4 linked regions of the Homo sapiens genome follow. The protein of the gene in region 4 interacts with the protein of the main gene of each other region in a pairwise test. Each region holds a gene or a part of one and is shown on either strand. Other genes may lie near its edges. The genes, in order: THAP4, RNF19B, ACKR2 and MS4A1.

Region 1 (7,030 bases), on a different chromosome or scaffold from region 4:
GTGGGTGGCTCTGGACCTAGCTTTGCAGCCTGGGCTGCCACCGGTGACCTGCGAGCTTGAGCATCTTTTCACGTCGTTGCTGGGTCATCCTCCAGCGAGGTGCCTGTTCAGGTCTGGTGACCATTTCCACTGTGCCTTTTCTGGCTGACATGTCAGAGTTCTTTATATGATTTGAATAAAGCTCTGTTAGCTAAATGTGTTGCAAATAGCTTTTTCGGTCTGTGATTATCTTTTGAGTTTTACAAATTGTTTTTGAAGAACAGAGGTTCTGGATTTTATGTGGTTCAGTTTGCCAATCTCTTCCTTTATGGATTCTGTTTTTAATGTCTTAGTTAAGCAGTCTTTCCTCACTAACAGGTCAAAATATGTATTCTGAATTTTTCTGGAAGCTTCACAGTTCAACCTAAAATCTTTCCTTTAGGTCATTAATCCACCTGGGGCTGAGTTGTGTGTATAGTGTGAAGTGCTGTCCCCTCTCCTTGTTCTCAGATGAGGGCCAGCTACCCTGCACCCTGCATGAAGAGCCCGGCCCCCCTGTTCACCCATGCAACTGCCCCCTGAGCCCCTCAGTATCCTTCATCAGGGGTCTGCTTCTCACCCTCTCTCTGGTTCCAGGTGGTCTGTTTGTCAGTCCCTGTGCCAATACCACACTGTCTTCATTATCATGGCTTCTACTTTTTAAAAATCACCTCTATTGAGGTATACTTTATATGGAATAAATGCATACACTTCAAGTGTGCAGTTTGATACATTTGGACAAGCATATATAATCTTGTAACGCTGCGCCAGTCAAGACTGAGAACAGTCCCAGCACCCTAGAAAGTCCCCGTGCTCCACAGGCAACCCCCGCTGCCCTCTCAAGCCCCCGGCCTGGTTTCTGCCACTGTAGACCGAGCAGCTCTGAGTGTCCTAGTGCCCATGATCATCAGCCGAGCAGTTCTGAGTGTCCTAGTGCCCATCATCATCAGCCGAGCAGCTCTGAGTGTCCTAGTGCCCATCATCGTCAGCCGGGCAGTTCTGAGTGTCCTAGTGCCCATCATCGTCAGCCTGGCAGTTCTGTCTGTCCTAGTGCCCATCATCATCAGCCGAGCAGCTCTGAGTGTCCTAGTGCCCATCATCGTCAGCCGGGCAGTTCTGTGTGTCCTAGTGCCCATTATTGTCAGCCGAGCAGCTCTGAGTGTCCTAGTGCCCATCATCGTCAGCCGAGCAGCTCTGTGTGTCCTAGTGCCCATCATCGTCAGCCGGGCAGTTCTGTGTGTCCTAGTGCCCATCATCGTCAGCCGGGCAGTTCTGTGTGTCCTAGTGCCCATTATCGTCAGCCGGGCAGCTCTGCGTGTCCTAGTGCCCATTATCATCAGCCGAGCAGCTCTGAGTGTCCTAGTGCCCCTCATCATCAGCCGGGCAGTTCTGAGTGTCCTAGTGCCCATGATCATCAGCCAAGCAGTTCTGTGTGTCCTAGTGCCCATCATCATCAGCCGAGCAGCTCTGAGTGTCCTAGTGCCCATCATCGTCAGCCGGGCAGCTCTGCGTGTCCTAGTGCCCATCATCATCAGCCGAGCAGCTCTGAGTGTCCTAGTGCCCCTCATCATCAGCCGGGCAGTTCTGAGTGTCCTAGTGCCCATCATCAGCCGAGCAGCTCTGTGTGTCCTAGTGCCCATTATCATCAGCCGAGCAGCTCTGAGTGTCCTAGTGCCCATTATCATCAGCCGAGCAGCTCTGCGTGTCCTAGTGCCCATTATCATCAGCCGAGCAGCTCTGAGTGTCCTAGTGCCCCTCATCATCAGCCGGGCAGTTCTGAGTGTCCTAGTGCCCATCATCATCAGCCGGGCAGCTCTGAGTGTCCTAGTGCCCCTCATCATCAGCCGGGCAGCTCTGAGTGTCCTAGTGCCCATTATCATCAGCCGAGCAGCTCTGAGTGTCCTAGTGCCCATTATCATCAGCCGAGCAGCTCTGTGTGTCCTAGTGCCCATTATCATCAGCCGGGCAGCTGAGTGTCCTAGTGCCCATTATCATCAGCCGAGCAGCTCTGAGTGTCCTAGTGCCCATCATCGTCAGCCGAGCAGCTCTGCGTGTCCTAGTGCCCATCATCGTCAGCCGAGCAGCTCTGCGTGTCCTAGTGCCCGTCATCGTCAGCCGAGCAGCTCTGAGTGTCCTAGTGCCCATCATCGTCAGCCGAGCAGCTCTGAGTGTCCTAGTGCCCATCATTATCATCAGTGGAGTCACAGCACACAACTCATTTGTTTCCGGTCTCCTTTCCTCACTGAAACGCTCTCAAGATTCAGCAGTTCTGCTGCATGTGCCACGTCTGCTTGTTGCTGTGTGGTGGTCCACCAGTGAGCTTGTCAGTTTTGTTTATCCTTTCTGTTGATGGATGTTTATTTTATTTGTTTCCAGTTCCGGGCTATTAGGAATAAAGCTGTAAGCATGTGTAGACCTAACTTTGTGTGGACACATGTTTTTTTTCCTCTTGGGTGCATACCTGGGATTGGAACTGCTGGGTTCTGTGGTAAGCACCAATCTCTTCCAGAGTGGCTGTCCCCCTTGACACCCCAGCAAGGTTGTCCCACAGCCTCGCCAAGGGTTGGCCTTTGAGTTTTATCCTGGCCACTACAGGGTGGTATTTTATTGTGATGTTAATTTGCACTTCCCTGCTGAGTAACGATGCTGCTCATCTTTTTGTTGTACTTATTTGCCACTTGTATTTCTTGTTTTGTGAAATGAACATTCAGATTTTTTGCCCATTTGTTTAAGTGTTTGTGTTATTCCTGAGTTGTAAGAGCCTGTTGTTTGTTCTGGGTATAAGTCCTTTATCAGGTGTACTTGCCAACACGATATTCCTATCCTGTGCCTTGCCTTTCTGTTTCCTAGACAGTACCATTTGAAGAACCAAATGTTGTTTTTTTTGGTGGGGGTGGGGGGTTTCTTTTCTTTTTCTTTTTTTTTTTTGAGACATTGTTTGCTCTCGTTGCCCAGGCTGGAATGCAATGGCCTGATCTCAGCTCACTGCAACCTCTACCTCCCAGATTCAAGCGATTATCCTCTCTCAGCCTCCCAAGTAGCTCGGATTACAGGCTCCCACCACCATGGCCGGCTAATTTTTTGTATTTTTAGTAAAGACGGGGTTTCACCATGTTGGCCAGGCCGGTCTCGACCTGACGTCAGGTGATCCACCCTCGTTGGTCTCCCAAAGCGCTGAGATGACAGGCGTGAGCCACCATGCGCAGTCTAGAACCAAATGTTTTAATTCTGTTACCATTTTTTTTCTCTAGTCAGTGCTTTTTGTGTCCTGTCTTAAAATTTTTCACCTAGCCCAGGCAGCAAAGATTTTCACCTGCATTTTCTTCAAGAAGTTTTATAGTTTTAAGATATATGCTATTTGGAATTGCTATTTCTAGATGGTATGAGGTAGTAGTCACGTTTTTTCCATTTTTCCTCATACAGATACCTCGTTTCCAGCACCATTTGTTGAAAAGAGAACCCTTAATTTATTAAAGTATGCAGTGCTTTTGTCGAAAATCAACTCACTTTGTGTGTGTGGTTCTTCCCCAGGACTCTCTCTTCTGTCCCACTCTTCTCTGTTTCGGTCTTTATACTGTTACCATGCTGTCTTGATCATTGTAGCTTTATATTGAATCAGGTGATAGAAGTTACCCAACTTTTCTTCTTTTTCTTTTTTCCAAAATTGTTTTGGCTATCCTAGGACCCTTTGCATTTCCTTATGAATTTCAGAATCAGCTTGTCAGTTTCTAGAAACATTTTCATTGGAACTACTTGAATTTCTAAATTAATTTGGGAAGAAGTGCCATCTTAGGCAAACTGAGTCCTCCAATCCAGTGCCATGGTAAGGTGCTCCATTTATTTAGATCAGTCTCATCCTATATTTTCTTGTAGTTTTCAACGTATTGGTTTTGCACACATTTTGTTAAATTTATTCCTACATATTTTGTGGTTTGGGATGCTATTATAAATGATTTTTTAATTTTCCACTTATTTGTTGCAAGTATATAGAAGTACAATTAGCTGTTGTATATTGATCTCGTATCATGTGACTTTGTTAAATTCATTCATTTCTGTAGTTTGTTTCTTTATTTTTCTTCTTTTCCTTCCCTCCCTCCCTCCCTCCCTTCCTTCCTTCCTTCTTTTCTCTCCTTTTTACTTTTTTCTTTCAATAAAAACAAGGTATTCTGTGTTGCCCAGGCTGGAGTAGAGTGGCTATTCTCTAGTGATTTTTTTCTTTTTTTTTGAGATGGAGTTTCTCTCTTGTTGCCCAGGCTGGAGTGCAGTGGCGCAATCTTGGCTCACTGCAACCCCCACCTCGCCAGTTCAAGTGATTCTCCTGTCTCAGCCTCCCGAGTAGCTGGGATTAAAGGCATGTGCCACCACACCCGGCTAATTTTGTAGTGATTTTTTTTTTCTTTGAACAGGGTTATTTAGAGATATGTTACTTATTTTCCAAATAATTGAGAATTTTTTAAATAGATTCTATTGCTCAGGATTTTTCATTCAATTCTATAAGGCCCAGACAACATACCCTCTAATATTTTAGTCTGTTAAAAAATGTTGGAGACTTATTTTACGCCCCAGTATATGGCCTAACTTCATGAATATTTCATGTACACTTAACGAATGTAGCATTCAATAGTTATAAAAGTCCCCTCCACAAGCTGGAAACCCTGGGATGCCAGTGTCATGGCTCAGTCCAAGTCCAAAGGCTTCAGAACCAGGGAAGTCAGTGGTGTCACTCTTGGTCCTGGGCCAAAGGTCTCAGAGCCCTGAGGAGAGAGGAGGTGCTGGTGACATCTGGGAGTCCAAAGGTCGGGGGGCCTGGAGGTGTCCAAGGACGGGGGAGGAAGAGTGTATCCCAGCTCCAGCAAACAGATGGACATATTCGCCTTATCTTTGTTTTTATTTTATCTGGGCCCCCAGCCTATTAGATGGTGCCCACCCTCATGGAGGGTAGATCTTCCTCACCTGGTCAGTCACCTCTGGAAACATCTTCTCAGACATACTCAAAATAATCCTTTACCGGGTTTCTAGGTGTTCCTTAATCGGTCACCTTTGACCTTTGACACCTAAAATTAACCATGACACCCACACCCACCTCTGGCTGCTTTCAAGTTTCTATTTTCTTGCCTTTGATTATCAGCCAAAGTTTTGCTGTGATATAATTAGAATTTGTGGCTTGATATATTTTGTTAGGCTCAGAAAATTGGCCATGATCTTTTCAAATATTGCTTGTGTTCTGTTGTCTTTCCTATCTTCTTCTGGGTCTCTGGTTACACATGTGTTCAGTCTTTTGCAATTTTCAATGTGTCCCTTATGCTTTCATCCATATTTTCCATTATTCTCTAAGCTTCAATGTGGATATTTCCTACTGATCATTTTCCATTTTACTAATCCTTTCTTCATCTGTGTCTAATTTGTCTATTTCATTATTGGGGCCTTAATTTGAGTTATTATGTTTTTCAGTTGTAGAATTTATATTTTAATCTTTTTGATAAATTCTGATTACCTGCAGAAATTCTCCATATTGTCTTCTAATAACTCCAGTATTGGTATCCCCTGGGTGAGGGTGGGGGAGGTGTCTATTTCCTGTTTTTTCTTTTGATCTTATCTCCTAGTAACCTAAGGAGTTTTTCTTTTTTTCTTGGATTCTAGACAATATGTGTGAAAAATTGTAGAGATGACTTGAGGCTTCCTTTGATGTTATCCTCACCAAAGAGCAGTTCTGTGCTTCTGCCTGTTGGTCAAGGATGGACAGCTCGTGTTCAGTAGAGGCTGAGCTGGTTTGAAACCGGACTTCCCAGCCTGTTTCTGGTTAACTCTTACTCCTGGGATGGGACCCTTCAGGGACCCCACCCAAAGCTGGGGTGCTTTTTTTTTTTTTTTTTTTTTTCCTCTTCAGATGGAGTCTCGCTCTGTTGCTCAGGCTGGAGTGCAGTGGCGCGATCTTGGCTCACTGCAAGCTCCGCCTCCTGGGTTCACGCCATTCTCCTGCCTCAGCCTCCTGAGTAGCTGGGACTACAGGCACCCGCCACCACACCCGGCTAATTTTTTTTGTATTTTTAGTAGAGACGGGGTTTCACCCTGTTAGCCAGGATGGTCTCGATCTCCTTACCTCGTGATCCGCCCGCCTCGGCCTCCCAAAGTGCTGGGATTACAGGCGTGAACCACCGTGCCCAACCTCAGGGTGCTTTTTTTCTTTCTTTTTCTTTTTCTTTTTTTTTTCTTTTTTTTTTTTTTTTTGAGAAGGAGTCTTGCTCTGTCACCCAGGCTGAAGTGCAGTGGCATGATCTCGGCTCACTGCAACCTCCACCTCTTGGGTTCAAGCAATTCTGCTGCCTCAACTTCCCGAGTAGCTGGGACTACATGTGCATACCACCATGCCCGGCTGCGCCTCTCCTCCTAGATGGACACTGAATTCCAGTGTTTGTCCCTCCAGCTCCATGAGTCTGAGAAGGCCCCACTTAGCTTCTCAGCCTCTTAGCTACCACATCCCTCTCAGCCTCCACCCCTTGAACCCCTTGACTTCCGGGCAGCAAAAGCATCGGGGCCAGTTGCTCCAAATTGGGTCTCACCTCCACACTTCCTTCTCTTTGGGGTGCTGGTCCTCGCTGACTTGGTGGTTCTCTGACACCTTTAAAGAAACTTCTTAAAACCTGGGTTGTTATCTGCAGGAGGGTTGGTCAGTTACAGAGTAGTCAGCCATGGCCATAAGCAGAACTCCGTTTCATCCACTTCTGGTGCCCCCCACCCCACATGACCCCCCACACATCTGGGGCACTAGAGAGATAGTGCCCATCAGAGAATTGTCTTTTGACAGTGGTCACTCTCACAATTTGCCGGCAAACATTCTGGGCATATAGGGCTGACTCATTCGGGACTTAGCTGCCATAGGCTTGGATTCTTGTTGGAAACAGCTGCTATAATTTATTCTGATGAATTACTGTTCCAAAGATGGTATTTCTGAGCTTTCCAAGAACACACTGGACATCAGTTCTAGTTACAGTGAAAGTGGGAGGCAGTGGAG
Region 2 (7,030 bases), on a different chromosome or scaffold from region 4:
CATCAATAAAAATGCACAGAAAATAATTTTCAAGCTTGGTGACAACTCTCAACTATTTGGAAGTTATTAAAAAATTAGGCCATTTCTTATTTTAGCCAAGTATTATGTTAGTATCCTCCAGATTTTATTTTTTTAATTAGTTAGAAGAATGATAATCATATATATAGTTATATATATAAACAATGTATTTTTTTATATGTGTCATCTACGGACTTAAGGTGGAGTTTGGGGAAAGAAGAAAGCTGGCCTCTCAATACCTGTGTGCCAGGTATATATAATTTAATTCGATACAACCTTGTGAGATAGGTTTAGGTTTGATATAGTTTTATAAATGAGGAAACTAAAGTTTAAGGAAATTGAATGACTTGTTCAGGGTCATATAACTAGTAAGTGGTGGAACCAGGCTTAGAACAGGGGTCTTAATTCCAACCAATGCCAATATTCCTTCCATTCAGCCCCTGTTTTAAAAAGCATTTGCTTGTCAACATAGCCGCATTATTGAGGATGCTGCTGCTTGGGTGCATTTCATTAAGTGTAGCCTGAGGACAACATGGAGAAAGCCAAAGATACTAGAGTCTAGTTTCCTTTCTGATTCCTGTTGTTAACAGCCTCCTACCTACGTTATTTTTCTTATCTGAAATAGGTCTAATTCTTTCCTGACTTGAGAGGTTTAATTAATGTTTACACGGTGTTTTGAGATCTTCAGTTGAAAGTGGTTATAGGGAGTAACTTTAAAATTCTGTTAGTTGCCAAATAGATGCCTGAGTTCTCCCTTGGGATGTGCCTAGTGGCTTTGCATCTCTTTTTTTTTGAGACAGCGTCTCGCTCTGTCACCCAAGCTGGAGTGCAGCAGTGGTGCAATCACGGCTCACTGCAGCCTCAATCTCCTGGGCTCAGGCGATCCTCCTGCCTCAGCATCTCAAGTAGCTGGGAACACGGGTGCATGCCACCAAGCCCAGCTAATTATTATTATTAATATTATTATTATTATTTGTAGAGATAGGGTCTCCCTGTGTTGCCCAGGCTGGTCTCGAACTCCTGGGCTCAAGCTGTTTTCCCGCCTTGGCCTCCCAAAGTGCTGGGATTATTGCTGCCTCTTTTTAATGCCAGGAAAAAAAATAGCTTCTGTGTTCTTACTGGATGTCATGGTTCCCTTGTTTTGTTTTGAACAGTGTTGTTTTGTTTTGTTTTAGAGACAGAGTCTCACTCTGTGCCCAGGCTGGAGTGCAGTGGCATGATCATGGCTTACTACAACCTTGAACTCCTTGACTAAAGCAGTACTCCCACCTCAGCCTCCTGAGTAACTGGGATTATAGGCACGAACCACTGCACACTGCTCCTTTGTTTTATTTTTTTAAACAAATCGTTCTATTCTTCTGGGGCTGGTAGAGGTCATTGATAAACACTAGAAGAGAAGTCCAAGTCCCAGTTACCTCCTATTCCCATACCTGACCATCTTTACTGCCCACAGATAAAGTTCTTGCCAGCCAAATTGATCAGGTCTCCCCTCTGCCTTGTTTGTATGTGCATTTGGTAGGGTGAGGGGGGCATGTGAGCAATCTTACAGGTTCTGATCATTAGTTTTACTATAATTACTCATAATAACAAGAACACCATACATTCAGAGATTCATGATTTGTTTACAGAATATTTGTAGGATAGAGCAAAGAGTTTTGGATTTTTCTTCTCTTACACTCAAATATGGTTTTATTTTATTCATAAATAAGGGAACCAATTTCAGTGGGAAAACATTCACATTATAATTTTTTTTTTTTTGAGACGGAGTCTCGCTCTGTCACCCAGGCTGGAGTGCAGTGGCACCATCTCTGCTCAGTGCAAGCTCTGCCTGCCGGGTTCACGCCATTCTCCTGCCTCAGCCTCCTGAGTAGCTGGGACCACAGGCGCCCACCACCACGCCTGGTTAATTTTTTTTTTTTTTTTTTTTGTATTTTTAGTAGAGACGGGGTTTCACCGTGTTAGCTAGGATGGTCTCGATCTCCTGACCTCGTGATCTGCCCACCTCGGCCTCCCAAAGTGCTGGGATTACAGGCGTGAGCCACTGTGCCCGGCCTCACATTATTATTTAATATACTAAGAACAATATGGCCTAGTATAATCTTAAAACAAGCTGTCAAATGAGATAAAATTAGTTCAAAATACAAATAACTGATTTTTTATAGTTCTTTATAGTCTTCAGACTATAATCTCATTCAGACATAATTTCATTTTAGTCTCATCCAGGTGGATATTGGCGTGCATTTTATAAAGGAGAAACCAGTTCAGAGAAGTTTAAACATGGGGCCTAGTGTTTCATTGCTAATAATTGGTACAATTGATCTTTTACGCTTTTGAGTCTCTGCCCAAGTATGTCTTTTCAGAAACCCCGAAGTCAGGTAACTGTAATGTTTTCCTCTCAAGTATCCTGTTGCTAATCTTAAAACCCTTTCAGAATCTCTAGGAGACTGACGGGTGAGCAAAGTAGGCAACAGAAAATTTCCTGGTGTACAGGGGCAGATCTTCTGTACAGATGAATAAGAAGGGATAAGGCTGTCTTGACCTAAATTCTTTGTGCAGGTCCACCACTCCAGCCTTTCATTGCTGCCTCTGTCCTCTGCAGAATCCTTCCTCCCACCTGATCCCAGGAAACAGTATCAGCTATTGGCCTTCCCAGACAACTAGACTGGACCATCCCATAAACAGGAAGCTTTTTTCATCCCTAGCACATTTATGAGGGAAGATCAAGCAAGCTCTTTGAGCAAGACAAATTTCAGTCAGTGAAGGAGGATTTTTGCTTTCTGAAGCCTCCCTGAACCTCTTCTCTTGATTTGGCTCCATACCTCCTGTTCCACAACTTTTCCCTGCATTCCCCAACTCCACACCACCCCCTCCTCTTGTGCACGTACACCAACCTCCATCCCAATACATCTGTCTCAGATTTGCCAAAGTACTTGTACTAAAGGAGAACATCTGTATCACTCCCCTGCCTAAGACTATTCATTGACTACCTAACCTATAAGATGAGTTCTTATTATGTCTTTGAGAACTTATTTGATCTACCCTTATCATTTAAGCTCCTTTACAGTTTCCAACCATCTTTTTTTTTTTTTTAGATGGAGTCTCGCTCTGTTGCCCAGGCAGGCTGGAGTGCAGTGGTGCAATCTCGGCTCACTGCAAGCTCCACCTCCCGGGTTCATGCTATTCTCCTGCCTCAGCCTCCTGAGTAGCTGGGACTACAGGCACCTGCAACCATGCCTGGCTAATTTTTTGTATTTTTAGCAGAGACGGGGTTTTACCGTGTTAGCCAGGATGGTCTCGATCTCCTGACCTCGTGATCCACCCATCTCAGCCTCCCAAAGTGCTGGGATTACAGGCGTGAGCCACCACGCCCGGCCATCTCCAACCATCTTTTGATTTTATTTTCTATTTTTCACTCACATCACTATTTCCTAAGGTATGTTATAGGCATTACTTGAAAGAAAAATGTTTTGTGAGGAAATAAGCTTGGAAAATACTGAGTTAAACAAAATAAAACAAGTTTATGAGTTTCTTAAATCTTTAAACATGCTAATATGCTAATATGTAGTATAAATCTTCAATATAATGTAATTTCCCCAATTTAGATCACCAGGAAACAGGTTTTTGTTTTTTCTGTAGCATCTTTAAGGCTTAACTCAAACTTTCCCTAAACTCCTTTAATAGTTACCATGCTGGCCTGCCTTTGGTTAGTGTCCTTATTTAACCATAAACCTTATGCTCTGAATAGATTGAGAGCTCATGTCTCTAGACTAGGATATCTATATTCCAACCATTTCTACAACTCTGTGTACAAAGTCTTTCAATTAGGCTCTAGAAGAGTGTGGTACATAGATGAATTTTGATGAAAAAGATAAGAAATATGAGCAGCATAGTTCTCAGAGGAAGAATAGAGATGAAAGAGATAAGCAAGAATAGTATAGACAGGTGATCATTCAATTCAACAGACAACTTTTTTTTGAGATGGAGTCTCGCTTTGTCGCCCAGGCTGGAGTGCAGTTGTGCCATCTCAGCTCACTGCAACCTCTGCCTCTCGGGTTCAAGCGATTCTTCTGCCTCAGCCTCCCAAGTATCTGGGATTACAGGCATGTGCCACAATGTCCAGCTAATGTTTGTATTTTTAGTAGAAACAGGGTTTCACCATGTTGGCCAGGCTGGGCTTGAATTCCTGACTTCAAGCGAGCCACCCGCCTCACCCTCCCAAAGTGCTGGGATTACAGGTGTGAGCCACCACACCTGGCTTCAACAGATACTTTCAGAATGATACACTGTTGAACCCTGGGTGAGTACTGGGTATTTCAAAAAGAACTTAGACATGGTTTTCTTGATAGGAAGTTTCACCTGGTAGAGGAGACAGATAATTGATACATAGATAGATAGAAAATTATTCAAATGTCATATGATAAATACTAAAGAAAATACGGGTGCTCTTAGATAGATGAAAGAACAATAGAATTTGCATGATGGTTTCAAGAAAGACTTCACAGAGGAGCAGGCATGGTGGTGTGCACCTGTGGTCCCAGCTGCTTAGGAGGCTGAGGTGGGAGGATTAGTTGAGCCCAGGAGTTCGAGACCAGCCTGGGTAATAGCAAGACCCCATACCTGGGAAATGACTAGAGATCAACCTGAAAACGTGGACTGGATTCAGGTTGATAGGCCTGTGTAAGCCATGGAAATAAGTTTTGGGTTGAAGCACTTTTTTTCTTTTTTCTTTTTCTTTGAAGGATTTTAAGCAAAAGAGTAACCTTCCAGAATGGAATTTGGATGGAGTGGGGAATAGGGAGAGCAGATAAGGAGGCTCTTGGAGTTGTCTAGCCTAGAGATGGGTCTTAAATAGGGCAGGAAAAATGAAGATGTTAAGGGTACAGTTCATTGTGACAAGTTGGCGCATGTCTACCACCCTGATGCCTACTAGGGGTCTATTTGTAAATGGGTAGCCTAGTTATGTTACATGACTTGGGGATGGAAAGTACAGACATAATATAGGAACACATTTCTTTAACCACTGAAGTCTATTGGAGCATAATCAAATTTATACTAATGGAAATCTCTTTCCAGGGCTGAAGCTAAGTAATGCTGTGGTCTAGCTTGTCACTTTATGAAGTTTCTGAAGATTTAGGAAATTAATAAAATGAGTAAAAGTTGTATGAACTTAAGCAGCAGGGGCTGGGGTGGGCGGTCTGTAGTCTTTTTCTTTTTTATTATTTTTTATTTTTTTGAGATAGGGTTTAACTCTGTAACTCTGTTGCCCGTGCTGGAGTGCAGTGGTGCAATTTCAGCTCACTAGAACCTCAACCTCCCAGGCTCAGGTGATCCTCCCACCTCAGCCTCCTAAGTAGCTGGGACTGCAGGCATGTGCCACCACACGCCACCGCGCCCCACCACACTCGGCTAATTTTTGTTGTTGTTGTTATTTGAAGAGAGAGTCTCACTCTGTCACCCAGGCTGGAGTGCAGTGGTGCAATCTCGGCTCACAGCAACCTCTGCCTCCTGGATTCAAGTGATTCTCCTGCCTCAGCCTCCCGAGTAGCTGGGAGTAGCTGGGACTACAAGTGCACGCCACCATGCCCAGCTAATTTTTTTGTATTTTTAGTAGAGAGGGGTTTTGTCAGGTTGGCCAGGCTGGTCTCGAACTCCTGACCTCAGGTGATCCACCCACCTCAGCCTCCCAAAGTGCTGGGATTACAGGCATGAGCCACCATGCCCGGCCTAATTTTTGTGTCTTTCGTAGAGATGGGATTTCACCATGTTGCCCTGGCTGGTCTTGAACTCTTGGGTTCAAGTGATCCTCCTGCCTTTGCCTGACAAAGTTCTGGGGTTATGGGCATGAGCCACTGCACCCAGCTGTGTCTGTATTCTTCACAGCATGTAATTTTCTACACCTTTCTTTTAGCTTCTGATTAGCAAGCCTGACTGATTGGTTAAGCTAAAAGAGCAGAGTAGGAGAGATGCACCAGCATGGGACGTGGAAGAGAAGGAACAAAGTGGACAGGGCAGATTGGGTTTCAAGGATGAGGTATTTTCTTTTCTTTTTTTTTTTTTTTTGAGACAGGGTTTAGCTCTGTCTCCCAGGCTGGAGTGCAGTGGCACGATCTTGGCTCACTGCAGCCTCCACCTCCCGGGCTGTAGCCGTCCTCCCACCTCAGCCTCCTGAGTAGCTGGGACTACAGGCATGCACTACAGGCATGCACCACCACGCCTAGCTAATTTTTGTATTTTTTTTTTTTGTAGAGATGGGGTTTTGCCATGTTGCCCAGACTGGTCTCGAACTCCTGAGCTCAAGCAATCCACCCACCTTGGCTTCCCAAAGTGCTGGGATTACAGGTGTGATCCACCATGCCCAGGCGAGGTTTTTTTTTTCCAACTATTCGGGAAGAAGATTACCGTATTCAGAACTTAGGGGTTTACCACTAAAGTGGGTTTATATGAAATTTTAGGATTAGGTTATAGTACCTGGCATATAATAAGCCAATAGATACATGGATACATTGAAAAGATTGCTTTAGAGCAGAGTGATGGCCTAGGAGAAGACCTAGAATGTCCTAGGGAAGGTCAAACAACCAAAACAAGAGAGGGTCTCTGTCATTCATGCAACACAGGTATTTTGAGCATGAACCAGTATACTAGACTGAGATTAAAAAGTGGATGATATGTCTCCTTAAGTCCAGTGTGGTTTGGAAGGCAAGCATATAAACAGTTAGTTACATTATAATGTAAGTGTTATAAAATAATTGTGCACACCCACGAAGTAGGCAACGAGCTGCCTAGAGAGGTTAAGTATATTTTACAGAGAAAATGACACCTGAGTTGGTTCTTAAATGGGTACTTGTCAGGGCAAGAAGTAAGGACAAGACATTTCTAGGTAGAAGGAATAGAGTATGTAAAAGCCAGAAAGTAGGACAGAGTGTACGATGTTTTTACGCCATATATCTTTGAGGACAAGGTCTCACATGCAGTTTTAGAACGTGTTTAGCTACGTTTGAATGTGACAAGTACC
Region 3 (6,372 bases), on a different chromosome or scaffold from region 4:
AATTCTATCACAGGTACAAAGAGGAGCTGGTACCATTCCTTGTGAAACTATTCTAAACAATAGAAAAAAGAGGGAATCCTCTTTAACTCATTTTATGAGGCCAGCATCATCCTGATACCAAAACCTGGCAAAGACACAACAAAAAAAGAAAATTTCAGGCCAATATCCCTGATGAACATCGATGCAAAAATCCTCAATAAAATGCTGGCAAACCAAATCAAGCAGCACATCAAAAAGCTTATCTACCACCATCAAGTCGGCCTCATCCCTGGGATGCAAGGTTGGTTCAACATACACAAATCAATAAATGTAATCCAGCACATAAACAGAACCAATGACAAAAACCACATTATTTTCTCAATAGATGCAGAAAAGGCCTTCGATAAAATTCAACACCCCTTCATGCTAAAAACTCAATAAACTAGGTACTGATGGAACATATCTCAAAATAATAAGAGCTATTGGTGACAAACCCACAGCCAATATCATACTGAATGGGCAGAATCTGGAAGCATTCCCTTTGAAAACCGGCACAAGACAAGGATGCCCTCTCTCACCACTCCTGTTCAACATAGTATTGGAAGTTCTGGCCAGGGCAATCAGGCAAAGAGAAAGAAATAAAGCGTATTCGAATAGGAAGAGAGGAAGTCAAATTGTCTCTGTTTGCAGATGACATGATTGTATATTTAGAAAACCCCATCGCCTCAGCCCAAAATCTCCTTAAGCTGATAAGCAACTTCAGCAAAGTCTCAGAATACAAAATCAATGTGCAAAAATCAAAAGCATTCCTATACAACAGTAACAGACAGAGAGCTAAATAATGAGTGAACTCCCATTCACAAATGCTACAAAGAGAATAAAATACCTAAGAATACAACTTACAAGGGATGTGAAGAACCTCTTCAAGGAGAACTACAAACCACTGCTCAAGGAAATAAGAGAAGACACAAACAAATAGAAAAACATTCCACGCTCATGGATAGGAAAAATGAATATCGTGAAAATGGCCATACTGCCCAAAGTGATTTATAGATTCAATGCTATCCCCATCAAGCTACCACTGACTTTATTCACAGACTTAGAAAAAACTACTTTAAATTTTATATGGAACCAAAAAGAGCCCATATAGCCAAGACAATCCTAAGCAAAAAGAAAAAAGCTGGAGGCATCACGCTACCTGACTTCAAACTATACTACAAGTCTACAGTAACGAAAACAGCATGGTACTGCTACCAAAACAGATATATAAACAAATGGAACAGAACAGAGGCCTCAGAAATAACATCACAGGTCTACAACCATCTGATCTTTGACAAACCTGACAAAAACAAGCAATGGGGAAAGGATTCTCTATCTAATAAATGGTGTTGGGAAAACTGGCTAGCCATATGCAAAGAACTGAAACTGGACCCATTCCTTACACCTTATACAAAAATAAACTCAAGGTGGATTAAAGACCTAAACATAAGACCTAAAATCGTAAAACCCTAGAAGAAAGCTAGGCAATACCATTCAGGACATAGGCATTGGCAAAGACTTCATGACTAAAACACCAAAAGCAATGGCAACAAAAGCCAAAATTGACAAATGGGATCTAATTAAACTAAAGAGCTTCTGCACAGCAAAATAAACTATCATCAGAGTGAACAGACAACCTATAGAATGGGAGAAATTTTTGCAATCTATCCATCTGACAAAGGGCTAATATCCAGAATCTACAAAGAACTTAAACAAATTTACAAGAAGAAAACAACCCCATCAAAAAGTGGGTGAAGGATATGAACAGATACTTCTCAAAAGAAGACATTTATGCAGTCAACAAACATATGAAAAAAAAGCTCATCATCACTGGGCATTAGAGAAATGCAAATAAAAACCACAATGAGATGAGATACCATCTAACCCCAGTTAGAATGATGATCATTAAAAAGTCAGGATAAAACAGATGCTTGAGAGGATGTGGAGAAATAGGAATGCTTTTACACTGTTGGTGGGAGTGTAAATTAGTTCAACCATTGTGGAAGACAGTGTGGTGATTCCTCAAGGATCTAGAACCAGAAATACCATTTGACCCAGAAATCCCATTACTGGGTATATACCCAAAGGATTATTAATCATTCTACTATAAAGACACATGCACACATATGCTTATTGCAGCACTGTTCACAATAGCAAAGACTTGGAGCCAACCCAAATGCCCATCAATGATAGACTGGATAAAGAAAATGTAGCACATACACAGCATGGAATACTATGCAGCCATAAAATGGATGAGTTCATGTCCTTTGCAGGGACATGGATGAAGCTGGAAGCCATCATTCTCAGCAAACTAACATAAGAACAGAAAACAAAACACTGCATGTTCTCACTCATAAGTGGGAGTTGAACAATGATAACACATGGACACAGGGAGGGGAACATCACACATCTGGGCCTGTTGGGGGATTGGGGGCTAGGGGAGGGATAACATTAGAAGAAATACCTAATGTAAATGACAGATTGATGGGTGCAGCAAACCACCATGGTATGTATATACCTATGTAACAAACCTGCACGTTTTGTACATGTATCCCAGAACTTAAAGTATAATAAACAAAATTTTTTAAAAAAGCCCCACTGAAGCTAAGCTGTCATTAAAGAAATTATAAACCATACATGAGGAAGGGTCAGGAGACACATTAAATAGATGAATTGATATCCCTAAAGAATAAAGAAGAATTTGAAAGACACTATAGGTCTTTTTAAATGAAGAAACAAAACCATAATGAAATAATTAAATACTCTGAGAACACCTGAAGGTTAGTCACTTATCCAAGAGTAAGTGTCCCAGAGTAAGTGGGATTCAGTTATAAGACAAAGGTGAGGGGATATCTTGGTGACATAACTATTAAGTGGTGCAGATGGCTCCCTAAGCTTTTGCTCTTACTTGCTGGACTGCAGGTACTGATGTAGATTTGAAGAGTCTATTGGACATCCCAGGGCAGCAGCAAAAGTGGGTTTAGAGAAAGGTAGAGAATGCTAGGTCTCACCATATTTTCCCCCCGCAGCACTACAGGACGTCGGGACTGGGCATTTCCTTCCAACATGGCCGCCACTGCCTCTCCGCAGCCACTCGCCACTGAGGATGCCGATTCTGAGAATAGCAGCTTCTATTACTATGACTACCTGGATGAAGTGGCCTTCATGCTCTGCAGGAAGGATGCAGTGGTGTCCTTTGGCAAAGTCTTCCTCCCAGTCTTCTATAGCCTGATTTTTGTGTTGGGCCTCAGCGGGAACCTCCTTCTTCTCATGGTCTTGCTCCGTTACGTGCCTCGCAGGCGGATGGTTGAGATCTATCTGCTGAATCTGGCCATCTCCAACCTTCTGTTTCTGGTGACACTGCCCTTCTGGGGCATCTCCGTGGCCTGGCATTGGGTCTTCGGGAGTTTCTTGTGCAAGATGGTGAGCACTCTTTATACTATTAACTTTTACAGTGGCATCTTTTTCATTAGCTGCATGAGCCTGGACAAGTACCTGGAGATCGTTCATGCTCAGCCCTACCACAGGCTGAGGACCCGGGCCAAGAGCCTGCTCCTTGCTACCATAGTATGGGCTGTGTCCCTGGCCGTCTCCATCCCTGATATGGTCTTTGTACAGACACATGAAAATCCCAAGGGTGTGTGGAACTGCCACGCAGATTTCGGCGGGCATGGGACCATTTGGAAGCTCTTCCTCCGCTTCCAGCAGAACCTCCTAGGGTTTCTCCTTCCACTCCTTGCCATGATCTTCTTCTACTCCCGTATTGGTTGTGTCTTGGTGAGGCTGAGGCCCGCAGGCCAGGGCCGGGCTTTAAAAATAGCTGCAGCCTTGGTGGTGGCCTTCTTCGTGCTATGGTTCCCATACAATCTCACCTTGTTTCTGCATACGCTGTTGGACCTGCAAGTATTCGGGAACTGTGAGGTCAGCCAGCATCTAGACTACGCACTCCAGGTAACAGAGAGCATCGCCTTCCTTCACTGCTGCTTTTCCCCCATCCTGTATGCCTTCTCCAGTCACCGCTTCCGCCAGTACCTGAAGGCTTTCCTGGCTGCCGTGCTTGGATGGCACCTGGCACCTGGCACTGCCCAGGCCTCATTATCCAGCTGTTCTGAGAGCAGCATACTTACTGCCCAAGAGGAAATGACTGGCATGAATGACCTTGGAGAGAGGCAGTCTGAGAACTACCCTAACAAGGAGGATGTGGGGAATAAATCAGCCTGAGTGACCAAATTTTGGTCTGGTGGGAACAGATGGGAACCAGCTCAATTGGGTGTCCACTCAAAGTGCTCTCTCCAGGGGCCTCAGTGACTGTGTTGCTAAACCCAGTGGTCAGTTCTCAGTTCTCAGCCATCAGCAGCATTTGCTCGCCCCGCCTTCTTCCTCCACTTTCTTCACTTGCTTCCAGGATACCACGCTTTCTTTTCTGAATTGCTACAATCTTTCTTCCTTCCTTCCTTGCTTCCTTCCTTCCTTCCTTCCCTCTCTCCCTCCCTCCCTCCCTCGCTTCTTCCCTTCCTCCTTTCCTCCCTTCCTACTTTCCTTCCTTCCTTCTGACAGGGTCTTGCTCTATTGCTCTGTCACCCAGGCTGGAATGCAGTGGCGAGATCTCCGCTCACTGTAGCCTCCTCCCCCTGGGTTGAAGCAATTCTCATGCCTCAGCCTCCCAAGTAGCCAGGACTATAGGCACCTGCCACCATGCCTGGCTAATTTTTGTATTTTTTTTCTTTCTTTCTTTCTTTTCTTTTTTTTTTTTTTTTGAGACGGAGTCTCACTCTTGTTGCCCAGGCTGGACAACAATGGCGCGATCTCGGCTCACTGCAACCTCCACCTCCCGGATTCAAGCGATTCTCCTGCCTCAGCCTCCTGAGTAGCTGGAACTACATGCGCGTGCCACCACGCACAGCTAATTTTTATAATTTTAGTAGAGATGGGGTTTCACTGCGTTGGCCAGGATGATCTCGATCTCTTGACCTTGGGATCCACCCGCCTTGGCCTCCCAAAGTGCTGGGATTACAGGTGTGAGCCACCATGCCTGGCCCTAATTTTTGTGTTTTTATTAGAAACAGAGTTTCACCATGTTGGCCAGGCTGGAGAATTGCTGTAATAGTTTTCCAACTGGCCCCTGTCCTTCCTCTCTCTTGCTCTCCTCCCATCTCATCTGCACCTAGCAGCCAGAGTGATCCTGATACTCTCGGCCTTTACTTCCGCCTCCCTCAGAGCAGCAGCCTGTCAAAACACCAGATTACAACAAATTTAGTTTAAAGGTCTCAATTAGCGTTATTGGCAATTCTAGAATCAGGCAACAGACTCATTGAATCAGGAACAGATTCACTCCATAAAATACAGAGAGTGCTGCAATGAGCTGGGTAGAAGAGGTTAGTTTTATAGACAGGAAGGGGCTGTCAAAGGCAGAAAGAAATGAAGAACAAAAAAAAAGATTGATTTTTTTTTTTTTGAGACAGGATCTCACTCTGTCATCCAGGCTGAAGTCCAATCCCACAATCATGGCTCACTGCAGCCACCACCTCCTGAGCTCAAGTGATCCTCCCATCTAAGCCCCCAAGTAGCTAGGACTACAGGAGCACACCACCACACCTGGCTAATTTTTGTATTTTTTGTGGAGACAGGGTCTCAGTATGTTACCCAGGTTGGACTGGAAACCCTTGGCTCAAGCAATTTGCCTGCCTCAGCCTCCCAAAGTGCTGGGATTACAGGCGTGAGCCACTGCACAGGGCCAGATTCATCATTTCAAAGTTACTTTCTATATGCGGCCGGAACAGGGTGGTTGACATCAGTTTTCTTCAGGTTACTTTTTAATAATGATTAAAACGGGGAACTTCATTATCATGAGCATGGTTACTGTCTGCATTATTACGCCAACTGAAACTGTCATGTTTGGGAATTTGGCTGTTAACTCTGTCTCCAGGAGTCTCAAAGGTCAGATAACAACTTAGTTTTGGTTTGAGGACATGGAACTTTAATACGACAGATTCCATTTTGGTTTGGTCTGGTCAGCTGGGACCTAGTGCAGGAGGTTAGTCCAAAACAATGGCCTTCCATAGTTTTTACTTAACAAGCCCAACTCCTTACGGTAATCCTTTAAGGCCTATGTGATCTGCCCTCACCCTGGCTACACTCTTTGCCCTTATGTCCACCAGCCTCCAGTGCTCCAGACACAACTGATCTCAAATACTCCTGACACATCCCCCTGGGGATTCCTCTTCCTGGATTGCTCTCCTCTCAGCTGTCTGCTTGGCTCACTCTCTCACCTTCTGAGGTCTTAGCTCAGATACCACCTTTCACTCACCTGTCCAACCTATTTAACACAAACTGGCCCATCTCTGACGCTCCTGA
Region 4 (7,030 bases):
TATGAAAGATAGTTTCCATAAGAAATAAAAAAACAGAGAAAGCACTCATGTGTTTCTTTATAAACTACTATTTTATACAAATATTTGTTTAAGGTTTGTAGAAGTATAGTTGCCACCATGAGATACCATTTTAACAGAGAAATATCACACACACACACACACAGCCCTCATGGTCATTATTGCCATTAGTTACAACAGGCATAGCCCAAGTAGAATTGGCTTACAAAAAAGTTTATCTCGCCAATAATACAGACACAGCTTTAATCAAGCAGTTGATGAATAAAATGAAATTAAAACAATGGCAGTCCAATCATCTCCTTCAGTTCAAACAATTGATGACCTTTGCATTTTAAGTTATCTTCACTAAAGTTACCCCTCTGGGGCGGAGTGTAGTGACTCCCAGCTCATTCCATACTTGCCATAGGACCTTGGGAAAAATAACCTCTCTCAACCTCCATTTCTTCATCTGCAGAAAGTAGTCAAAATGCCTACTTACGAAGGTGTTGAGTGAGTTGGCAATACCATATACAATATCTCTAGTATATAGTAGGTGCTCAGTAAACAACTATAATTATCTGGACTCACCTATGGTACAGCAGAAAAAGCATCAACATCAGAGCCATGGTGAGTGCCTTCTAGCTTGGCTCTGTTGCTAACTGTGAGGTCTTTACTAAGGCAAATTCTATACCCAGACTGCAGCTTCCTCATTTGTGAAATGAACAGAATGGTTTCTGAGGTTTGGACTAGCTCTAGAAATCCTACCTAGTGACCAGAATCAGTCCGCAAACTCTTTAGTGGGCTATATTAAAATATCTGTTTTTGTTAGAGGTCTTGTAGAGTGGCTTGTTGTACAAAGCAGATCCCCAGGACCATGTGGCATCTGGCTATCTAGGGCAGGGGCAAAATCAAGTGAGAAACAACCAAAGTTTCTTCTCTCTTTCCTCTAGCCCATGCGCCAGACAGATAATACTTTTCAACTGATTTATAGTCATTCACATAGTGCATATATTGGAAGGAGAAAAGAGGGGTCATAAGGGAAAGGCTGAATTCCTATTTCTCACAGGAGACAAAGCAGCCTGGTACCCTGGATGCCTAATTTGAGAGATCCAAGTCTTCATTTTAAATCTTTACAGGCTGGGCATGGTGGCTCACAGCTGTTATCCTAGCACTTTGGGAGGTGGAGGGGGGCAGATTGCTTGAGTCCAGGAGTTCAAGACCAGCCTGGGCAACATGGCAAGACCCCATCTCTAAAAAAAATATAAAAATTAGCTGAGTATGGTGGTGGTTGCCCGTGGTCCCAGCTACTCCAGTGGCTGAGGCAGAAGGATCACCTGAGCCCAGGAGGTAGAGGCTGCAGTGAGCTGTGATCATGACACTGCACTGCAGCCTGGGCGACAGAGCGAGGCCCTGTCATGAAAACAAACAAACAAACAAAAAATATTTACTAATTATGTAACTTGGCACAAGTAACCTAGCTTCTCCGTGCCCTTGTTTCCTCTTCTATAAAACACAGGTGATGATTCACCCCTTGCCTGTTCTATAAGGCTCAGATGAGATGCCATGTGTCAAATTTACTTCCAGCCCTAAAGTAGGTATAAATGTGACAGTAGTCAGCTGCCTGTTTTACAGCACACCTGCAGCTACTCAGCTCTGATTGACTTCAGTAAGATATACTTCAGGCTGTGGTCTAATGGCTGGGATGTGGCACCGGCTTCAGTAAGATATGTGACCTGGATAGACAGTCTTGATTTCCAAGACATCTTACATGACTTACAAGCAATAAAGACAAGAGCAAAGATGTGTCCCCAAAAGAGGGATTTTCAGATTCCAGGAAAGACCCAGTGGAGTCCGCATAAGTGGTTAACATGAACAAGTGAATGCTAAGGAAACCCAAGATGAAGATTGAACAGAATCTTAAAATGTCTGAGCTGGAAAGGGCCGTATTAATTGCCTTCTCACTTCAGAAATGAATAAATCATGAAAACTGATAAATAGCATTTACTACACTCTCCCTTTGTCCTAGGCACAATTACATATGTTAACTTATTTATGTCTTACATCTCAGAGAGGGGTACTGTTCTAACTTTACAGAAGGATAAAATCGAAACTAATGCTCAGCAAAGTACAAAGAACAAGAATAGCAACAAAAATAACTATTTATTCCAACATGGGTTCTTTGCATACATTTATTTCTTCAATAATATTTATTAAGAAGTAACTAAATCCAAAAATTATTTTAGATCCTGAACAAGAGAGAACAAAATCTCTACTTTGATGGAACTTCCATTCTGTGGGGAAGAGACTGACAATAAGCAATTAAATAAATAAGGTAATTTCCTACAGTGATCAATGCCGTAAAGCAATTAAGATAGGATTTTGTAAAAGACAGCAAATAGGAGTACATGTTATAGATTGAGGGTTCAAGGTAGGCTCCTCTAGGAGCTGACATTTGAGCTACACCTGAACAAAAAGACACTAGCCATGCACAGACCATGAGCCCAGTTAAGTGTTATAGCAGCCCACGAGATAAGAATTATTATTATTTCAATTTTACAGTTGAACCTGAGGCCCAGAGAATTTAAAGAACTTGCCCAACATCTCAGAACAAATGGAGGAATCACTATTGAAACCTAGGCAATCTGACTCAGGAGGCCACAGTCTTATATACTGCATTAGAAAGCCTTAGAGAGCCTTTTCTTTTTCTTTGAGACCGAGTCTCACTCTGTTACCCAGGCTGGAATGCAGTGGCATGATCTCAGCTCACTGCAACCTCTGCCTCCTGGGTTCAAGCAATTCTCCTGCCTTAGCCTCCCGAGTAGCTGGGATTACAGGTGCACACCAACATGCCTGGCTAATTTTTGTATTTGTAGTAGAGATGGGGTTTTGCCACGTTAGCCAGCCCGGTCTCAAACTCCTGACCTCAGGTGATCTGCCCATCTTGGCCTCCCAAAGTGCTTGGATTACAGGCATGAGCCACCGTGCCCGACCTAGAGAGCCTTCTTGATGTGACTTGCACAAGGTGGCAGAGTTAGAGACAGAGAGAGGCCTGGAATCGACCCCTCCTGCTTCTACAGATAGTCCTTACCATACTCTGCAATGTTGCCTCTGGCCCATCATAATGCACAAAGGCAGATAAGCAAAAGGACAAGGACAAGTCCATTGAAAATACATTTTTCAATATTAAAGCAAAAGAAAAGCATCCAGGAATAAGAAACAAAGAGGACATGCAGTCATATATGCAAGGTGTCCTCTACAAAGATAAAGAATGCCCCAAACCCAGTTGTCAAGATCACTGGCAGGGACTCCTGGGCCCACATGCTCTTCCTAAACAACCCCTCCATCTCCTTTCTCAGAACTCAGCAGTAGGCCTTGCCTCAGATCCAAGGTCACTCGGAAGAGGCCATGTCTACCCTCAATGACACTCATGGAGGAAATGCTGAGAGAAGCATTCAGATGCATGACACAAGGTAAGACTGCCAAAAATCTTGTTCTTGCTCTCCTCATTTTGTTATTTGTTTTATTTTTAGGAGTTTTGAGAGCAAAATGACAACACCCAGAAATTCAGTAAATGGGACTTTCCCGGCAGAGCCAATGAAAGGCCCTATTGCTATGCAATCTGGTCCAAAACCACTCTTCAGGAGGATGTCTTCACTGGTGGGCCCCACGCAAAGCTTCTTCATGAGGGAATCTAAGACTTTGGGGGTAAGTCAGTTGCCTTCCATCCCATGTCGTAGGGATTCTCTGGCTGACAGAAGCTGATGCGGTATAGGCCACATACAGAATTCAATCCAATTTGAAGAATTGGGATCCAACCTGATGTCTTCTTTATGTCTAACACAGTGGGCCAAATCAGGGGTGCATCAGAGAAGTTATCACTTAGATCACCTCTGGGTGATCTTATGTCACCTTTTGGTTTTGGGGCTTGTATATGCAGGGGTCCCCCATCCCAGTCCATTGCCAGAATCCCAGGCATACCTGCTCCCTGGAAATGCCCCATGTGGTTGAGGAAACAGATTCGAACAAGAAAAAGACAAAATTCTTGGCACCTCCACTGCTTCCTTTAGGCATTCCTCACAGCTCCAAGTCAGGAGCCAGAGCTTCCAACCTTGTCTTTGCCTGCTAGCAGTGATGATTTCAGCTCATCCACTGCTGCCTCTGTTCTCTCCCCAGGCTGTCCAGATTATGAATGGGCTCTTCCACATTGCCCTGGGGGGTCTTCTGATGATCCCAGCAGGGATCTATGCACCCATCTGTGTGACTGTGTGGTACCCTCTCTGGGGAGGCATTATGGTGAGTAAAAGAATAGCAGCCATTTGGGAAATGGTGCAGACAAAAATGTTAAAAGGCTCCACAGGGATATGCCAGATTATTTCTGTGTTGAGGGAAATATATGAGTAGGAAATATTATTGGGTTAAAGTAATTAAGAAGACAGGTTGACCAAATTGAGTATAAATCCCATGGTTGAGAGTCAGTGGTCCTGTTTCATGTGAATTCAGAGAAAGGGGCCCTGCATGGATCTCACAGGGACTGTCCAAAGCAAGAACTCTCCAAAGTCAGTTCTGGTGGGGAGGGTGGCCCTAGACATTTAGACTAGATAGCAAGATGTTTTGGAAAGCAAGAGGCAGCAGGAACATCCACTTCCATCTACCCCTTCTTGCTTACAATTCTGTTTGGTTACTATGGTACCTGGTGAAACCTGTCCCATCACAAGTCAGTCTCATTTTGCTTATCGACAGAGCAGCACTCTTTTGGCTGTTTTACGTACATGTTTTCCAAATCTGTAACCCTGTCTGGGTGTGGCACATAGGACAGTGATGTTTATTTCCCCGTGATACTTTTCATAGTTGCCACTATAAAAGATAAGTCCAGGATTAAAATTTTCCAAACAAGTAGAGATGGGTTAGAACAAGAGTTTCCTCCATTCTACAGCCTGAATGTGAGAAAAGGAAGATGAGCAATAGTCATCATCACTTCCTGTAACAGCCAATGTTTTCATGGAGTGCCTGTGCCATTCAGGTCAAGTATTTCCTTCTGCATCAGTTCACTCTTCAGAGGGCATCAGAGTCATTTATGTCACTGTGAACCCCAAAGGGCAGTTCCACAAGTTAAAAACAAAGAAAAACTAGAAATAAAACTTTTAAATTTATGGTATGAGTATTAATTGATGAGGAAATTTGAGTTCTGTCTCTTTGGTCTTACTATATTCCTAGTCACAGATCCCCAGATGATTGAGTAAAAGGCATGAATTTAGTGTCACTGAGCCTGAATAAAGGAGGAATATGACAGCTGAAAAATGAATACAACTGATAAAAATGGGTGGATGGTTGTGTGAAAGTTGCTGAAAGTGTAGGCTTCTTTCTGACCAGTTATCAATGTTAAAAAGTGATCTCCCTCTCTCCTCTATCTCCTGTCTTGCCCACCCCCTCTCCATCTCCCCCACCTCTCTTTTTTACAGTATATTATTTCCGGATCACTCCTGGCAGCAACGGAGAAAAACTCCAGGAAGTGTTTGGCAAGTAACCATATGTCCTTCTTTCCCACATGTCAGAGAAGTACCTATTTTTTTCGGTTAAAAACTGAGACCCTTAAAAAGCCAAGGTATCACAGCCTCTCAGCCCTAAAAAGCAAAGACCCTCCACAATGTTATTGTGATTTTATTTATGAAAAACTTAGAAGCGAGGTCTATCTGAAGTATGTTCATGGGAACAGAACTAAAAGCAGATCCATGAAAACCATACCTACAGTCTTAAGAACGTTAAATGCTGTGTGAAAATAATAGACCTTTCTGAAAGCCCTATCATTTCTCCCAGATCACCATTTAGGAAAATTATCTGATCAATGTCATGATTGATTCAAATTCTAGCTAAGCCATTTTTTGGCCGTAACATTGAACAAGTCAGTTTACCTCTATGTTCCTGAGTTTTCACCTAGAAAGGAAGGGTAACAGTCCTTGCTACCATGTGACGTCCAATGGAGATGAAAGGCAGTAGAGTGTGTGATGGTGCTTCACAGGCTATAAAGTACTACACTGTGGTCTTGCCCATAAAACCCCTAGGGACTCATCTAGATCCAGAGGAAACTGGCCTGCAGAGCTGCTGATGCTGTATGGATGAAAAGAGTTTAGCAGCAAGTTCGCTCCCAAAAAATTCCTCCCCCAACACTGTTACTAAACTGTGTCACTTTCATAATCAATGAGGGAATGGGTGGATTGAGATGGTTCCTGTCTTAAAGTGGCCTGACACACTCAGTTTGGGGGGAAAACTTTTTATGAACATCAAATTATTCTCTAGATACAGCCAGATTTACTGACTTGCCATGTGTAGGTCATAGAGCCAGGAATGAAATATGCGCAGCATAAAATAATAATCAATAATCCCATATCATTATGGTACTTGTTATTTATATTTTCCTGTTTCAACCTTTTATCATCCCTGCAAGGTAGAACATTCACACTGATATTTTCTTACCTATGCTACCCAAAGACATCAGCCCTAATTGTATTTTGGAAGATAGCTGACTGGGGCTGATTGCAACCTATGTCAGCAGGAATAGATGTTGTTACTGTTGTTGCTTCTGCTTTTTTTATTTCCATTTATTTGATAGTACAGATCTAGAGGGTTCTATCTGAACCTTCCCAACCTATACTTCATAATACCATCCCACTAAAGTGTGATACAAGAAACTTCTTCACTCTCTTCCCTCTACCTATTTATGAAGGCAGATAATAAACTGGATAATATTTATCTTCACTTATTCAACAAACATTTATTGAGTGCCTACTAGGATGGTGGCAGTGGCAGTGAAGGAAATGCAAGGATACAAGATATAGAATCAAGGGTTACTCTTAGAATTTTTGCTTTATAAAACAGATGGATGGTGAATGAGATAGGGAAGACTGAGAAAAGAACAGGATAGAGACATGATTTTATTTTATAGTGACAAAGAGGCTAAAAACAACTGAGAGAACTTCAGTATATTTAGTTGTAGTTGCTTTGTGAGTCAGGGCAGTTGCATTTGGAATTCCCTCCC

The links.
Region 1: the proteins of MS4A1 (region 4) and THAP4 interact in binary tests that used the Homo sapiens proteins (3 or more experiments, as listed by UniProt).
Region 2: the proteins of MS4A1 (region 4) and RNF19B interact in binary tests that used the Homo sapiens proteins (3 or more experiments, as listed by UniProt).
Region 3: the proteins of MS4A1 (region 4) and ACKR2 interact in binary tests that used the Homo sapiens proteins (3 or more experiments, as listed by UniProt).

The regions. Positions count from the first base shown.
Region 1 is NC_000002.12:241,585,129-241,592,158, reverse strand, and holds part of THAP4 (peroxynitrite isomerase THAP4), read left to right. Parts: intron 1-7,030. UniProt on the Homo sapiens protein: Heme-binding protein able to scavenge peroxynitrite and to protect free L-tyrosine against peroxynitrite-mediated nitration, by acting as a peroxynitrite isomerase that converts peroxynitrite to nitrate.
Region 2 is NC_000001.11:32,954,797-32,961,826, reverse strand, and holds part of RNF19B (E3 ubiquitin-protein ligase RNF19B), read left to right. Parts: intron 1-7,030.
Region 3 is NC_000003.12:42,861,419-42,867,790, forward strand, and holds the end of ACKR2 (atypical chemokine receptor 2), read left to right. Parts: intron 1-3,047; 5' UTR 3,048-3,084; coding exon 3,085-4,239; 3' UTR 4,240-5,868; downstream 5,869-6,372.
Region 4 is NC_000011.10:60,458,832-60,465,861, forward strand, and holds part of MS4A1 (B-lymphocyte antigen CD20), read left to right. Parts: intron 1-2,240; 5' UTR 2,241-2,329; intron 2,330-3,353; 5' UTR 3,354-3,543; coding exon 3,544-3,702; intron 3,703-4,170; coding exon 4,171-4,290; intron 4,291-5,456; coding exon 5,457-5,513; intron 5,514-7,030. UniProt on the Homo sapiens protein: B-lymphocyte-specific membrane protein that plays a role in the regulation of cellular calcium influx necessary for the development, differentiation, and activation of B-lymphocytes.